2 separate regions of the Homo sapiens genome follow, and region 1 is linked to region 2. Evidence: fine-mapped expression QTL. Tissue or cell type: monocytes after LPS. Region 2 holds a variant in brackets; the other region holds the start of a gene. All regions are shown on one strand. Distances are between the middles of the regions.

Evidence for each region. PIP is the estimated chance that this variant, and not a neighbour inherited with it, causes the effect.
Region 1: it holds the start of VNN1, and the variant in region 2 is fine-mapped to the expression of VNN1 in monocytes after LPS (Quach 2016, PIP 0.95).

What each region holds. Positions count from the first base shown.
Region 1 is chr6:132,710,539-132,718,649 of GRCh38, reverse strand. VNN1 (vanin 1) reads left to right here and starts at 4,595. Exons shown (of 7, transcript NM_004666.3): 1 at 4,595-4,824; 2 at 6,811-6,941. The coding sequence starts at 4,615.
Region 2 is chr6:133,403,789-133,411,899 of GRCh38, reverse strand. All of the region lies in intron 3 of EYA4 (EYA transcriptional coactivator and phosphatase 4), which reads right to left. Among named protein-coding and RNA genes, the nearest start is that of EYA4-AS2, 49 kb to the left of the region's middle. RefSeq lists an enhancer at 822-1,354. The variant G/T (reference allele first, on the strand shown) is at 3,633.

The DNA.
Region 1 (8,111 bases), 690 kb after region 2:
TCCCTTTACCTACCTAAGGCAGGACTATAATCTGATTGTGGCTCAAAAGACCCTCATTTCAGAGAGGGTCCCACCCCATACCCTAGAGGAAGAAATGCTATAAAGAGATGTCAAGACAAACCTGAACAGACAAGCTTTACTGGGTTTCCCCACTCAAACTGTTAGTATGGGATCATAACCTTTTTGTCCAATCGCATTTCTACATGGTTGTCAATCGTGACTATGTAATGAAGCTTCCATAAAAACCCAAAAGGACAGGGTTCGGAGAGTTTCCTTACAGCTGAACACGTGGAGGGTTCCTGGAGGGTGGCACACCTAGGGGTGCGTGGAAGGCTCTCCAGTCCTTCCCCCATACCTTGCTCTATGCACCTCTTCATTTGTATCCTTTGTAATATCCTTTACAATAAGCCACTAAAGGTAAGTGTTTCCCTGAGTTCTGTGAGCCACTCTAGCAAACTAATTGAACTAAAAAAAAAAGGGGTCATGGAAACCCCAACCCAGAGCCATTTGGTCGGAAGATCTGGAAGCCCAGACTTGTTACTGGTGGGAAGGAGGGGGCGGTTTTGTGGGACTGAGCCCTTAACATGTGGGATCTGATGCTATCTTTGGATAAATAGTATTTGGATTGAACTGGAAGATAGCCAGCTGATGTCTGATGCAGAGTCAATTGCTTGCTTTCTAGTGGGGAGAAATCTCCACCTACTTGGGAGTAACCAGTCTTTTGTGTTAGTTGTTGTGCTATGAGACCAGAGGAAAAATGGATTGTTTCTCCTAAAACCAGATTAATGTCAACAAAAGAATTGACATTGTGTTGTAGCCACTAAATATTAAAATATGGGCGTATATTTTGAGTAGCAATGCAGAGGCCGACTGCCAATCAATCTTTTATCAGACACAAGTATATGGACACACTTTTACATGCTGTGCACATGGCTTTTCAGAGTTCACCAGGTGAAGTGCAAGAGGCAGTGCCCACTCCACTCAGTCCTTGCTCTTCCCTCCTTTTCCCTTGTTTCTGGTTCTCTCTGCGTAAGCTGGGCAGGACTTGCTTCTGAGTTCCTCTGGGGACCTGCTGCCTGGGGTGGGGTGATCACTGCTGTGCTAGCAAAATCCAGAATACTGTGGGTCTTGCCCTATTCTGGACAGTGCGATGTCATGTTTTCCTTGCAAAAGGCAATCTGCTCCATCTATGCAAGTTTGGTTGGAGGAGTCTGGAGGTATCAATTAGGGCTTTTGTCTACACTCAAAGTCATTTCCTTGGAGACAATTCTCCCAGTTTCTACTTTGTGTGAGCAGAAGGGCTGCATTTGGGGACCTTGGCTGGCTGTAGCAGTAGGGTTAAGGATCCAGAGAACCAGCCTAGGAGTTGTAGTAGAGGCTGCTGGTGCCTCCCAGTTCCATGTCCTGCTGATGATACTCTACTGCAAGAACTGCACTGTTTCTATTTCTATTTCTTTCTTTCTTTCTTTCTTTTTTTTGAGACGGAGTCTCACTCTATCACCAAGCTGGAGTGCAATGGCGCAATCTCGGCTCGAGGCAACCTCCGCCTCCCGGGTTCAAGCAATTTTCCTGCTTCAGCCTCCCGAGTATCTGGATTATAGGCGCCCCCGCCCCCCACACTGCTCCCTTCCATGCCCAGCTAATTTTTGTATTTTTAGTAGAGACAGGGTTTCTCCATGTTGGTCAGGCTCATCTCAAACTCCTGACCTTTGGTGATCCTCCCGTCTCGGCCTCACAAAGTGCTGGGATTATAGGCATGAGCCACCGCGCCTGGCCGAACTGCATTATTTCATCTGAAGATTTGCTCTCAGCTAGTACATGCTAAGTAGGCCAGAAAGGGTAGATTCATGTGGCAGTGACATGCTGGAGGAGGGACAAGGTTATTGGTCCTATGATTTAGTCTCAGTCTTTTAGTGAGCCTGTACCCCTGGGTTTATGAACTTCACTTGGCTTTTTTCTTCTGCCATTAGTTGGCATAAAAACAAGCTAGAGATGAGATTTTCCCTTTCCCCAAGTTAAAGATTAGAGTGGCTGGGGTTGGCATTTTTCCTTCCCCTAGGTAGGTTAGGCTCTGGTAAAATACTTTACTTTGAGGGCAGGCTTTTGTTAAGAAGAACAGACCAGAACTCTCAAGGTTGTCCACCCTGAGCCTCCACCAATTCGTCAATTACAGTTCAAGTGAACCCACGGTACTGGCGCCAGCCGCAGAGGACTCTGCTCGCAGTACACTCTTAACCTCTGTATCTGCCTATCTCTGCAGTTCTGAGGACCGCAGTTTATCCTGTGATCTCAATTCTCTGATGCATCCTAGAAAAGTTGTCGATTTTCATTTGTTTAGCTTTTTTCTTGGTGTGAGCATGGGAAAAATGACTGCCAAGCTCTTTATGAGTTGGACTAGAAACTCCACGGGAGGTTTAATATTTTTAATCTAAGAAGGTCAAGAAGTAATTTTTTAACCTCTTGCCAACTCATCTCAGTTTTAACTTTTATTTCAGTGCTTCCTTTTACAAATTGTTACATAATAATGACATCTTTTTGTGAAATATGTGGTATTCCCACCCACCTGGGCATGGAAAGGCCCTAAGAGGTCAGCAAGCAGTTAGAGAAGCTGGTGTTTACCGGAAACTCAGGAGAACCAGCCAACCACAACCCCTGGGTTACCTTGGCAATTGCAGAATAAATGCATTATAGTTACTAAAGTAAAAAATTAGATATGCCTGTTTGCAGATTGAACTATAAAAATACCATTCAAAGACAAATAGATCTAAAAATAAAATGGAAAAACATAAACACTAATTCTGTAAATATTATACTTAATGCACAACTGAAACAAAATTTGCCAGCTTACTCAATATCAAAATCTATGAACAGTTTTTCTATTTTATATAATTTCCCTCTCCTCTCTCTGGATCTCGCTCCCCAGCTCATTTTTTCTTTTTTTTGCTCTGATTCTTTATACACCTCTGTTGCCTCTGTGATAAGCAGCTTCAAAGATGGTTCCTAATGCTTTATTGGATAGAATACAACAAAAGCGATGAGGTGTTGCTTCCCCAATTACATTACGAAGCATCCGTGGCTTCCATCTCCAGTGGGTTCACTTGCTGTCTGGCTCTAAGGGAATCCAGATACCATAATGCGGGCTGCCCTATGGTGAGGTTTGCATCACTAGGAACTCATGTCTCTGGGCAACAACCAATGAGGTCTTGATCCCTGCCGTCAGCCACATGAGGGAGCTTGGAGCTCGGAAGTGAATCCTCCTGGAGTCAAGCCTTGATATAGCTAGCCCTGGCAGCTGCTTGACTGCAGCCTTGTGAAAGAGACCTTGGGCCAGAGGCACCAGCTAAACTGCCCCTGGATTCCTGACCCAGAGAAAGTGGGAGATGATGTATTTTTGCTTTTTGAAGCTGCTGAATTTGGGGATAATTTGTTATATAGCAATAGAAAATGAGTAACTCTTTTGTATTCCTCTTTGTCCTGGCTTCCCCATTTTGAGGAAAATAAAGTAAATCAAAGTGTAGAGCTGAAATATTCACATGAAAATAATAATAAAGTTTTAAAATTATTTGAATGTCTTGTGTTGACATTCCAAAATATATGAATTCCAAAAATTTATATGTTGAAGTCCTAACTGTCAGTATCTTAGAATGTAACTTTTTTGGAAAAGGGGTCATTTCAGATCTAATTAGTTAAGATGAAGTTATACTGGAGTACAGTGGGCACTAAATCGAATTGGTCCTATGATTGAGTCTCAGTCTTTCAGTGAGCCTGTACCCCTGGGTTTATGACCTTCAGTTGGCTTTTTTCTTCTGCCCTTATTTGGCATAAAAACAAAGCAGGTGGATCACCTGAGGTCAGCAATTTGAGACCAGCCTGCCCAACACGGCGAAACCCTATCTCTACTAAAAATACAAAAAATTAGCCTGGCGTGGTGGCGGGCGCCTGTAATCCCAGCTACTTGGGAGGCTGAGGCAGGAGAATCACATGAACCCGAGAGGCGGAGGTTGCAGTGAGCCGAGATTTCGCCACTGCACTCTAGCCTGGGTGACAAGAGTGAAACTCCATCTCAAACAACAACAACAATAAACAAACAACAACGATGACAAAAAAAGCTAGAGCTGGGATTTTCCCTTTCCCTGTGTTAAAGATTAGAGTGGTGTCCTCACAAAAAGGGAAAACTTGGATACAGGCACACACATGGGGAGAATAGCATATGAAGAGACACAGGGAGAAGGCAGCCATCTATGGGTCAAGGAGAGAGGCCTGGAACACATCTTTCCTTCACCGCCCTCAGGAGGAACCAACTCTGCTGACACCTTCATCTGGGACTCCCACCCTCCAGAACTGCAAAGCAATAAATTTTTTATTTTTTACACCACCCAGTTTATTGTATTTTGTTAGGCAGCCCTAGCGAACTAATGTACATAGAGTTCTTGAGTTAATCTTCACAAATTACTGCAATAAGGTAGGGTCTTTTGTTATGTAACAATGCTATGAAATCATAGCGTTTTCTTAATTAACTTCCGTAGTTTAAGGTACTAAGTTCTGGACACCACGTGTCTTCTTTCTATAAATACCAGGACATGCTCTGTTTTTCAGCACTCATTGGACTTCAGCATGACTACTCAGTTGCCAGCTTACGTGGCAATTTTGCTTTTCTATGTCTCAAGAGCCAGCTGCCAGGACACTTTCACTGCAGCTGTTTATGAGCATGCAGCGATATTGCCCAATGCCACCCTAACACCAGTGTCTCGTGAGGAGGCTTTGGCATTAATGAATCGGAATCTGGACATTTTGGAAGGAGCGATCACATCAGCAGCAGATCAGGTACCATCTCTACCATCTCTCCAGTGTACTGGATTCTATGAGAAAGGAGGGGGTCCTAGGAGACAGGGCCACTGTCAGGGTCAGTTACACTTTTAGATGATATATGTATCAGAGTAGCCAAGAACCTTTATTTTACAGTTAGAATTCTACTTTCCTCTCAAAATTAGAGCAAGGACTTCCCTAAAAGTAAGAACAAAGTTAAGAAAAGAACAATTTGCTCATTATCAAGAAGCAGCAGACCTTTGAGGAACTGGCCATAAATTCAACATCTTTGTTCCCCTTTTCTGGTACAGATGGAGGATGGAGGATAAATGGGTCAGGGACTAGGTGCTATTTTCAGAGTATTAGTGGCCTTCATGTACTCATGTGCTATTAAGGCTTTGCAGGTTTTCGAATAAATTTATAATCTGAAAACAAATTTAAGTTTTCAATTCCTTGCCAGCATGCATTATATACTTCACACTTCATTCTAATTACAAGATAAAAGTATATGTAATGCATTGTGAGTCCTTAAGTTTAGTGAAGGTTTCAGTTTGAAGTTAATCATACAGTATAAATTGTGGTTTACACAAATATTATTTTAAAAGCTATTGATCGATTAGGTGTAGACCAGGAATACATGAAGTGTGATAAAAGTCATGGATAAATGTGTATTACATATATCTATAAATATATATTCTTTTGTGTTGTTGAGTTAAGGTCTCACTCTGTCACCCAGGATGGAGTATAGTGGTGTGATCACGTCTCACTGCAGCCTTGACTTCCCGGGCTCAGGTGATTCTCCCACTACAGTCTCCAGAGTAGCTGGGACCACAGATGCATGCCACCGTGCCCAGCTAAGTTTTGTATTTTTTGTAGAGATGGGATTTTGCCATGTTGCCCACGCTGTACTTGAACTCCTGACCTCAGGTGATCCACCTGCCTTGGGCTCCCAAAGTGCTGGGATTACAGGCATGAGCTACCGTGACTGCCCTATATTCTTATATATACTAATATTTAAAAGGTTATCAGGAGTTCTGATGTTCTTTTTCATCCTTAGTCCAACTATTTCCTTGAAGGTCACAGAGCTTTTTAAGGTGACTCTCTAATTGGAAGGTGCCCAGGTTAGCTCAGGCAGTACTTGTAGGCATGGGACAGTTCAAGTAACCAGTTTGTGGCTCCTCTTTTTCTGAGAAGCAGGAATCATGTTTGCAGGGGAAAGCTAGGGCAGAGGAGGAAATAAACAGAATATTTAAGTTATTAATCAGTCTTGACACAGGCACAGTCATCAGCGAAAGTTCAAGGAGAGGCTTGGTTCCAGGATAAGCTAGGTTTATAGTTAACGACTGCCATAGGAAACAACAATGGCAGGATTAGAAAATTAAAATGCTTGACTAAGCCAGGTGCGGTGGCTCATGTCTGTAATTCCAACACTTTGGGAGGCTGAAGCAGGCGGATCACCTGAGGTTGGGAGTTCAAGACCATCCTGACCAATATGGAGAAACCCCATCTCTACTAAAAATACAAAAATTAGCCAGGCGTGGTGGCAGATGCCTGTGATCCTAGCTACTTATGAGGCTGAGGCGGGAGAATCGCTTGAACCCGGGAGGTGGAGATTGTGGTAAGCCGAGATCTAGCCATTGCACTCCAGCCTGGGCAGCAGAGCGAAACTCCATCTGAAAAAAAAAAAAAAGAGAGAAAAAAAAATGCTTGACTAGAAGCCCAAACCTCACCATTATGTAACATATCCATGCAACAAACCTGCATTTGTACCCTTTGAATCTAAAATTAGAAATAAAGAAAAGAAAAGAAAAAGAAAAAGAAGTGACAGTGCACTGAAAAAAAAGGAAATTAAAATGCTTTGGAAAAGAAAATAAATTATAAAAATATAGAAAACAAAATAAGATTTAAGGGGTGTGGGGGAAGCCCAAATAGTTGTTACTCAGCCACTCAGCTCCTCAGCTCCTCTTGCAGGCCCCCCTTTGGATTAAGTTGCATTTTTAACAGGGTGCGCATATTATTGTGACTCCAGAAGATGCTATTTATGGCTGGAACTTCAACAGGGACTCTCTCTACCCATATTTGGAGGACATCCCAGACCCTGAAGTAAACTGGATCCCCTGTAATAATCGTAACAGGTAAAGAAACAACTTGTGAAAAATTCACTAGTAAACATCAACTTGATTTACCTGGGAAAACTTTGTTGATGATCATTGCATAGATCCATGATCAATTCTTAAGTTTCAGTATAGCTTATTTTTCATCTACTATGGGTATATTTACTGGGAGAGCAAATATGAATTATGAAGTCACAGAAGTCAGAGCTAGAAAGTAGCTTAGAAATCATCACATTCAGTGTGAACATCTCTGGTCTCTGACTCCTCACCAGTGAACAGAAAAATATTTCCCTGTGTAGGTCTGTGATTTGAAAACTATATGAGTAAATGGCAAAAGAGAGTCACATCAGTTTAAGATTAATAGTTTTCCTTTCTCATTGCTAAGATAGCTGATGAGGTTAATGTAGTAAAGTCCTTAAAGTGTAAGCTGATTGTAATCTAAGAGGTGATATGGCAGGATTTTAAGTGGTTTAAGTCAGGTCTCGGCTACAGAGATATTAAGTGTGGTGAAAGCAGCACTATTAATTTTAATGTAAGGAAACCAATATCTTATACACCTAAGAAAATCATGTCGATTCACATACTTCTTTCTGAATACACATGGCTAAAATTATTTTAGGAATTCCTCTTTTGGAACTATTCTCAAAACCGCACAACGCCAGTTAGAATGGTGATCATTAAAAAGTCAGGAAACAACAGATGCTGGAGAGGATGTGGAGAAAGGGGAACTCTTTTACACTGTTGGTGGGAGTATAAATTAGTTCAACCATTGTGGAAGACAGTGTGGTGATTCCTCAAGGATCTAGAACCAGAAATACCATTTGACCCACCAATCCCATTACTGGGTATATACCAAAGGATCATAAATCATTTTACTATAAAGACACATGCATGCATATGTTTATTGCAGCACTGTTCACAATAGCAAAGACTTGGAACCAACCCAAATACCCATCAATGGTAGACTGGATAAAGAAAATGTGGCACATATATACCACAGAACACTACACAGCTGTAAAAAAGGATAAGTTCATGTCCTTTGCAGGGACATGGATAAAGCTGGAAACCATCATTCTCAGCAAACTAACACAGGAACAGAAAACAAAACACTGCATGTTCTCGCTCATAAGTGGGAGTTGAACAACGAGAATACATGGACACAAGGAGGGGAACATCACACACCGGGGCCTG
Region 2 (8,111 bases):
ATGTTCAGGAGCTTTAAAATATGCATGACCTTTGACCTGAAATTGCATTTCTAGAAGTTCACTCTAAGAAAATCAGGAATATGAGAAGATTTATGCACAAATATATTCAATGAATTATTTATAAGAGGACAAATTCTGAAAGGAACAGAAATATCCCCAAATAAGAAAATGATTACATACATAAATTATTATGTGCTCTGATATATTATGCAAATAACTTTCAATTCTATGGTGAAATATTCATAAGATAATGTAGAGTTTTTAAAAAGCAAGATAGACTGAGTCATACATTTTATGAAACAAAAATTAAAAAAAGACCGAATATATATATATATAGATAGACAGATATACAGATACACACACACACATATATGGAAAATTAAATGTGCCAAAGTGTGGTTAACTCTGGGTAGAGTGACTGTGTTTTTAGTTTAATAAATTGAGTATTTTCTGATTTTCTAAAAAGAACATGCAATACTTTACTGATTACAGATATTTAAAAACCATGCTGGTGTTTCCCTTTGATGTGCTTTTCTCATGGAGTTTCATATTTGTGCTCTATAACACAAGTAATAATTGGGTCCCGCTCCATAAAAATTTATTAACTATTTCACTCAGCACTGCCTGGGAACAAGGAGTCTCTTGCTCATCATAACCTTCCCCCACAGTGTCTTACAGAGAATAGAGTGTATGTTCAAAAACCACCGAATCAAAAAAATAGTAAGTCCTCATCTGTTATCTTCTGTTTATACAGTTGTACTATACAATAAAACATCATGTAGTGTTAAACCGTTTGTTGCTTGTATGCAAAAGTAAAAATAAAGTGCTTGTAAGTAAACAGTTCAAGCACATAGCCCCCTCTGTCTTCTGATTAGGCTTGAGAGGGCAGAAAGTCAGGGGGTGGTGGGGGTAGGCTGGGGTCAGGCGGGGGAAGGGCAGGGAGGAACAGCAGAGGGGCTGAGGGCTCATCCCCACCTCTAAAGCTCCAACTTCAGTACTGCTACTTTGATCTTCTTCAACTCTCTTCCCCTTCCCCCATGCCTGAAGACTACAAAATGGTAAAATGCAACAATGCCAAGGATGAATCAACACCTGAGGGTAATAATTTAACAGGCCCGCTAGGGAACCAGAGCCCTGTTTGAAGTGGACTGCAGGAAGCCCCCAGGAGGAGAGAAAAGCCCTGCCAACAGGAGGGACTGCTGCTGCAGGACAGAGTAGGGAGCCTTCAATGCAAACGGGGAAAACACATGATTGATAGAAGGAATTAAGACCTTAGTTCTATGGAAAAATACAGAAGTTTTTTTTTTTTTGGTTAGGAGGAGCTCTTTCAGTCAATTCATGAACTTTACTCTTGAATAAAGCTGTTAAACTTCATGTTAGTTTGTAAATTTTTATAAATTTGTGACCTTAATAGTAATTATCCAATGTCCTTAATTAAGTTGGATTTATATAGATTTAAATAATACCTTCTCAAAATAATATATTTTCTTCCTCTTCAACTTCCTACAATGCTGTTCACTTTAAAGTTTATATCCAATTTAAAAAGCAGCAGCAAGTAATCTATATTTAAGAAACACCAATAACACATCCCTATTTGAAAAATATTTACTTTACACGAACATTTTACTCATGTTGTATTCAATAGGAAGTTTCAAGGACGCCAACCATTTACTTAGACAAGTTTTAGTATACTATCATCTCATTAAATTAATGAAATCTATTCATCAATAGATACTAAGAACACTTAGGACATGGTCAGAATCTGACTATATATCTATATATTATCTCTATCTAAACTGGTTTTGCAAATATTAGTAAATTTGCTGCATTAAAATTTTAATATGCATAGGCTGACGTATTTGAAGTGTTTCAAAAGCTTAATAACTCTATTTTTTAAATATCCACTTAAATGACTCTGAAGAAGGGAACAGAAATTTTATATGGGGGGAGGACATATATTTAAGGTGTACAACATATGTTTTCATACACATATACTTAGTAAAATGATAAGACAATCAACATATCATTTCTTTCACAGTCACCTTTCTTTTTTGTGAAAGATTTTCTAACATCCATACTCTTAATAAATTTCTGGTATACATTACAGTATTATTGACTATAATCTTCACACCAGTGCTTTAGATTTCTAGAGTTATTCATCGTACATAACTGTAACTTTGTAAACTTTGATCCACACCTCCTGATCCCTCCTCCCATCTCTGGTAACTACCATTCTACCCTCTGTTTCTATGTATTTGACTTTTTTATTTTTAGATTCCACATATAGAGATATACATAGGTTATAGTTGTATTTGAAATGTTTCAACAGCTTAATAGCCCTCTATTTTAAAATATCCATTTAAATTACCCTGAGGAAGGGAACAGAAATTATATACAATTTCTATCTATCTATAGAAAGTACGTGTATTCCACATATAAGTGAGATCATGCAGTATTTTTCTTTTTGCGTCTGCCATATTCACCTAGCATAATGTCCTCCAGGTTCATCCATGTTGTCACAAATGGCATAATCTCCTTTTTAAGGCTGAATAACACTTCTTTTTTTGTGTGTATATATTTTGCAATTTCTTTATCCATTCAACCATCTATGAACACTTCAACTGTTTTCCATATCTTGGTTATTGTGAATAACGCTGCAATAAACATGGGAGTGCATACATCTCTATGTGGGGCTGATTTCACTTCCTTTTTGGATAGTGAATAGAAGGTTTTATGCTCCAATTTTGGTTGGGAATAATACAGGTTTCTAAATTACCTTGCCAACCCACCCTTGAGTAGACCTTTGTCATTCAGGACTTTTCCATGTAACAGAGCAGCTACAGACTAATGACCTATGGACCACTGAGTCACTAACTTCATTTCACTCATAATAAAATCCAGATCAGAACAGGGAGTCTGCAAAATCAAGTCTAGTGAGTGGAAGGTGAACTCTTTTTTTCACTATGTAAAAAGGAATTAAAGTTACTCTCCACTAAAAGTGACCACACACCTCCATGAGCCTTATCAAAATTAGCATTGAACCACTCAATATTAGTCCCAAATTTAATCCTAAATCATACACAAATGAGAACATATTCTTGTCTGGTGAATACCATGAATAATCATGACATCATGACTAACACTCACTGAGTACTTAGTCGCGCCAGGCACTGTCCTAAAAGCTTTGACAGTGTAAACCATTTAAACCTCATGGAAACATATGAGGTAGATATTGTTATTATCATCCTGTATGTGGTTAGGGAAACCAAGAAGGCACAAAGAGATTAAATAACTTGTCCAACACTGTATAGCTAGCAAGTGGCAAATCCATGTTTCAAATTAAGCATTCTGGCTCGAGAATCTACATCCTCTACTAGATTGCCTTTGTAATAATAAATTTAATTTTTTTTTCCAAAACTGAACTTGCTGAGATTCATTTAATCTTATGCGTAGATTCTAAGAACCAGACCAAATATATATGTATTTTTAACCTCTACATAAATCATTCAAGAGGACAAGACTATGCAGACAGTCCATCTACAATGTAACCACATAAAAGAATTCTGGGGAATCTGAGCCCATTAACAAAAGTGTGCATGGAATCAGCCAAGAAGCCAGATGTCTCCCTCAGA[G/T]GAGGAGTATCTTCCTAGCTTTTCACTGAGACCTTCAGCCAGGTATTCCCCAACAAAAGATGGAGGAAGGACGGTCTGTTCACCATGCAAAGGGGCCAAATGTAAAATGATTGATGTGTTTAGTAACAACCTTGAAGTTTTTAGTAGTAAATACTTTTTAGCAAAATCCAAATTGCAGCCCCAACAATTAATAAAACTCTATAAAGATATGTATTATAGTTCAGGAAAGTTTGCATAATGAAAAAGTTAAAGCTTTGCCTAATCCCTTTTTCATGTTCAGCTCTTAATGTAAGTCAGGTTTCCTTTTCTTCCCCCCATACTTTAAATCCTCCAAAGAATGCTAAAGAAAATCAGGCAAGCAAAACAAGCAGCTTTTGATTCTCTGGCACTCTACCATTTGGAAAACAGACTCAAATTGCATGACAGATAGTGGTCTAGGAATTTGAGAAATATGAGTTGGTTTCAATAAGAAATACCTTTATAAGGAAGCTTTAGAAAATAGCAGCAGTATTTTTCTTTTATTTTTTTTTCCTGAAAATTAGTAACAAACATCAGAACCCTAAGTTGAATTTGAATCTATATAGAGCTCACTGTTTGATCCACAAATTCTTACTGGGCTCAACTTAATTGAATTTAGAAGACGAAAACTGCTGAAGCTGAGAAGATTTATGATTGCATGTTATCTGTGGCACAGGGAGTCTCTGGATTATTCAAAAGTGAGGGGGGTTGGCATGCTGTGGAACTGCTTCTGCTAAGCTTGCTGTAAGGTGAAGCTACTGGGGAAAAATCTGAAGGCTCCAAGAGCAAGGAAGGCGGGGGTGAGTGAGTAACAGCCAAAGCCCTGGTGATTTGGAAAGAGTTTGCACCTGTAGGGTCCATCGCCTTCTCCTCCTATCCTCCCATTCAACATTTAGTCCAACTTTAAGAAACACTACAAATTCCCAGAGAATATGTAGAATAATCTAAATAAATCTCTTTCGATAAATACGTTTCCTTCCAAAAAAAAAAAAAAAAAACCCTAGACTCCTTTATTTCACAGTGTAGGTTGATAAAACTATGTGATAACAAGTGGTTGATAAACTGAATTAGCACTTTAACAATTAACTCAAATATCCCAATGTAAGGAGTTTAATTAGACCTTTCCCAAATTAAAAACTTGATCTCAAAGTTTTTTCTTATCTTCTGAATTTAAAGACATTAGTAATATATTATGTATTACACTGAGATATGTCATACCAGCTCTATGTAAAATCTGCTCAAGAGAAAGACAATATAGTTGAAACCTAAAAGCTAAATAAGTGCTTACTTTATTCTAGAAAAACAAATGCTATATACACATTATTTTTCTATTCAGCTTTCTCTATAAGTAACTTTAATTTTAAATTATTCTGCATTTCTCCCTAATTTACACTCGAAAACCTATAGAAGACTGAAATAATAAGAGACAGATTTCATACATTTCATTTTCATTTTAATAGAAAACCTTCTAGAATTAAAAATCGCATAGTACACTTGGAAATTATTTTGTTAAAGTATAAGAAACAGGTTTTATACAACCTGTTAACAGCTTTCAATCTGAAAAATGTATATAGCTAACTGAAATATCTAATTGAATTTAACTAAAATATGCTGGCAATTAGGTGAGGGCAACACAGAATTATGAAGACCAAGGCACTGAACATCATGACAAATCTTAGAACATTTTTAATGAAGAGAATTCACAAAATATATACTCATTCAAAGGCTTTCAAATGCTGACCAAAGCTTTCCTTTTGACCTTACCTATCACTCCTGCCTTCACAGATCCTGCACTGCCAGTGACTCAGTGGGTGTGCCCCCGTTTACACCATTGCATATGATGTGCCGTTGGCATTGTATGCCTCTCAAGGTGCAGTTTGATGCCATCTCTTCCAAGAAGCCCAGATGTCATTCTCTAGCTGTTTCTCTGGCCAATGAGTAGTCATTTCCTTATGAGAGCTCATCTCGTGTCATGAGTCCTGTATGTGTCTTATCTCTGATTATTTCGTAAACTTCTTTTGGGCAAGAACTATATCTAATAGATTTTACTTTCCTTAAAATACCTAAGATAGAACCTGGCCCATGGTAGGTGGTAAATAACTGCCTGGTCAATTAGTAAATAAAAATATGAATGAAGTTTGACAGCCTATACAATATATATATAAAGTAATCTGATACAATGTTACTAAATAGATAGATAGAAGATAGGTAGGTAGGTAGGTAGGTAGATAGATAGATAATAGAATTTAGCAGCATTCTCTCTGCTCTCCAGTTGACTACACAGTTCCTAAAATACAACAGACATGCTCTCACCTCAGGACCTTTGCACATGCTGTTCTCTCTTCCTGGGACTCTTCTCCCAGACAGCTGCATGACCCAGCCCTCATTTCCTCCTTAGTGAGACCCAGCTCTCACTAAGGCCTTCCCTGGCCAGGCAATGCAAAATTGTCACCCCCTTCCCCCCATTCATTCTCTCTCTTCTTTTCCTGCTTTTTCTCCATTGCACTTACCACCTCTAATATACTGTTTTGTATATTAATCTTTATTATTGCTTGCCTCTCTCCACTGGAATGTAAACCCCAAAGGAGAAACTTTTGTCTGTTTTATACTTTGCTGTAGCCCCACCTAAAATTGTGCCTGGAACATAATTGACATTCAATAAATAACTGTTGAATTAATTTGTTGAATTAATGACTCAAGAGTATTCACCTTTCATACATAGGAAATAGAATATAGAATACCGAGAATGATTTTTATGAGATCTGTGGAAATCAGTCACATCATCACGACAATGCAAGAATAAAGAAGTTAGTAGATGGCCTTGAGTTTTCCCAAACAATGGCATTTTCTGCTACCAAAATAAATATGTTATTCAGTCAGAACCACTGGACTATAAGAAGTATATTCCATTCTGGTTTTTACTGGGGGAAAGGATGTTGCCACAAGATGTCAGTCCATTTATTCATTCATATATCCAATAGATATTTTATGACCACTTCCATGTGCCAGGAGATGGCTAAGATCCTTGGAAGACAGATAAAATGCTACCTACCAACTCAAAGTCCAGTTAGGGAGTCAGGGGGTAAAACAATATTCTAGCACAGTGTGTTGAGGCCATGGCATGGTGAGCACAGGAGCCTGAAGGAGTGGATGGAAAAGGCACCTCAGAATCATGACACTAGGAAATGATTCTCAGTGAAGCAGGCTCTTAAGTGAGAAAATAAAAGTTGAGGAACTAAGAGCGACTATGTTCAAGCAGAGAATAGCATGTCTGAAGGCAGCTACGAATGAGTAAGCAGGGTACTGCCAGGGTAGAGTTTTAAAATAGAATGAAATCGTAGATGTTGAATCAAGTGAACAGGGAATTAGGGTTTCCCATTTCTCTCTCTCCTCATGCGAAGAGCCAAGGAGACTAGAAACTGGATACAAGCAATCCACTTTAAGGTGGGTGATGAGGCAGGGCTACACGTGAACACGAAGGACATCCCGAAACTCAATGAAAGTCGTATTTATTACACACAGACTTACATTAACTGATAACTAAATGCATAGGAAGTTACTAGTCTCAAATGTTTTGTGTTAGAAAAAAGCTTTACTATTCAAGCCAACAACTGGAATTGCTCTCTATGACTAGAAGACTGTGGGTGCTGAAACTAGAGATTATTTTTGTTTTATTTAGCATGACCATATGTATTTTCTGTCTGAAGAATCTACAGTGTAGTAGATCCAATGTAGTAAATTTGTAATACGAAAAAAAAAACAGCTCTGAAAGTTTTACAAAAATTATTAAACTAGGAGTAGCTACTTGTCAACCTTGGTTAAGAGGAGGTATTGTCTTTCCTGTAGGATCACAGTGACAGAGACAAACAAAGCTCTTCAATAAACACTGGCTGAATGAGTGTGAATGGACAGAATGATGTTATTAATCGCTTTGGTAACTGGGGATCTTATCTGCTCTCCCCTCATCACTGAGTAACATCCACATTAGAAAAGAGATGATGTGCTTTGTCTTTTTTGTCTAATCTCTCTCTTATTGGCAACACTCACTGAACTGAGAAAAATAAGTGAACAGGGGAGTCAGTCCAAATAAAGGGCTTAAATTCCTGAGACACTCCTGTTAAAAATACATGACAGGAGGCCGGGCACAGTGGCTCACGCCTGTAATCTTAGCACTTTGGGAGGCTGAGGCGGGTGGATCACCTGAGGTCGGGAGTTTGAGACCAGCCTGACCAACATGGAGAAACCCCATCTCTACTAAAACTACAAAATTACCCAGGTGTGGTGGCACACGCACAACTGTAATCCCACGTACTCGTGAGGCTGAGGCAGGAGAATTGCTTGAACTCTGGGGGCAGAGGTTGTGGTGAGCCAAAATCATGCCATTGCACTCCAGCCTGGGTAACAAAGGCGAAACTCCATCTCAAAGAAAAACACACAAACAAACAAAAACAAAAAACATGA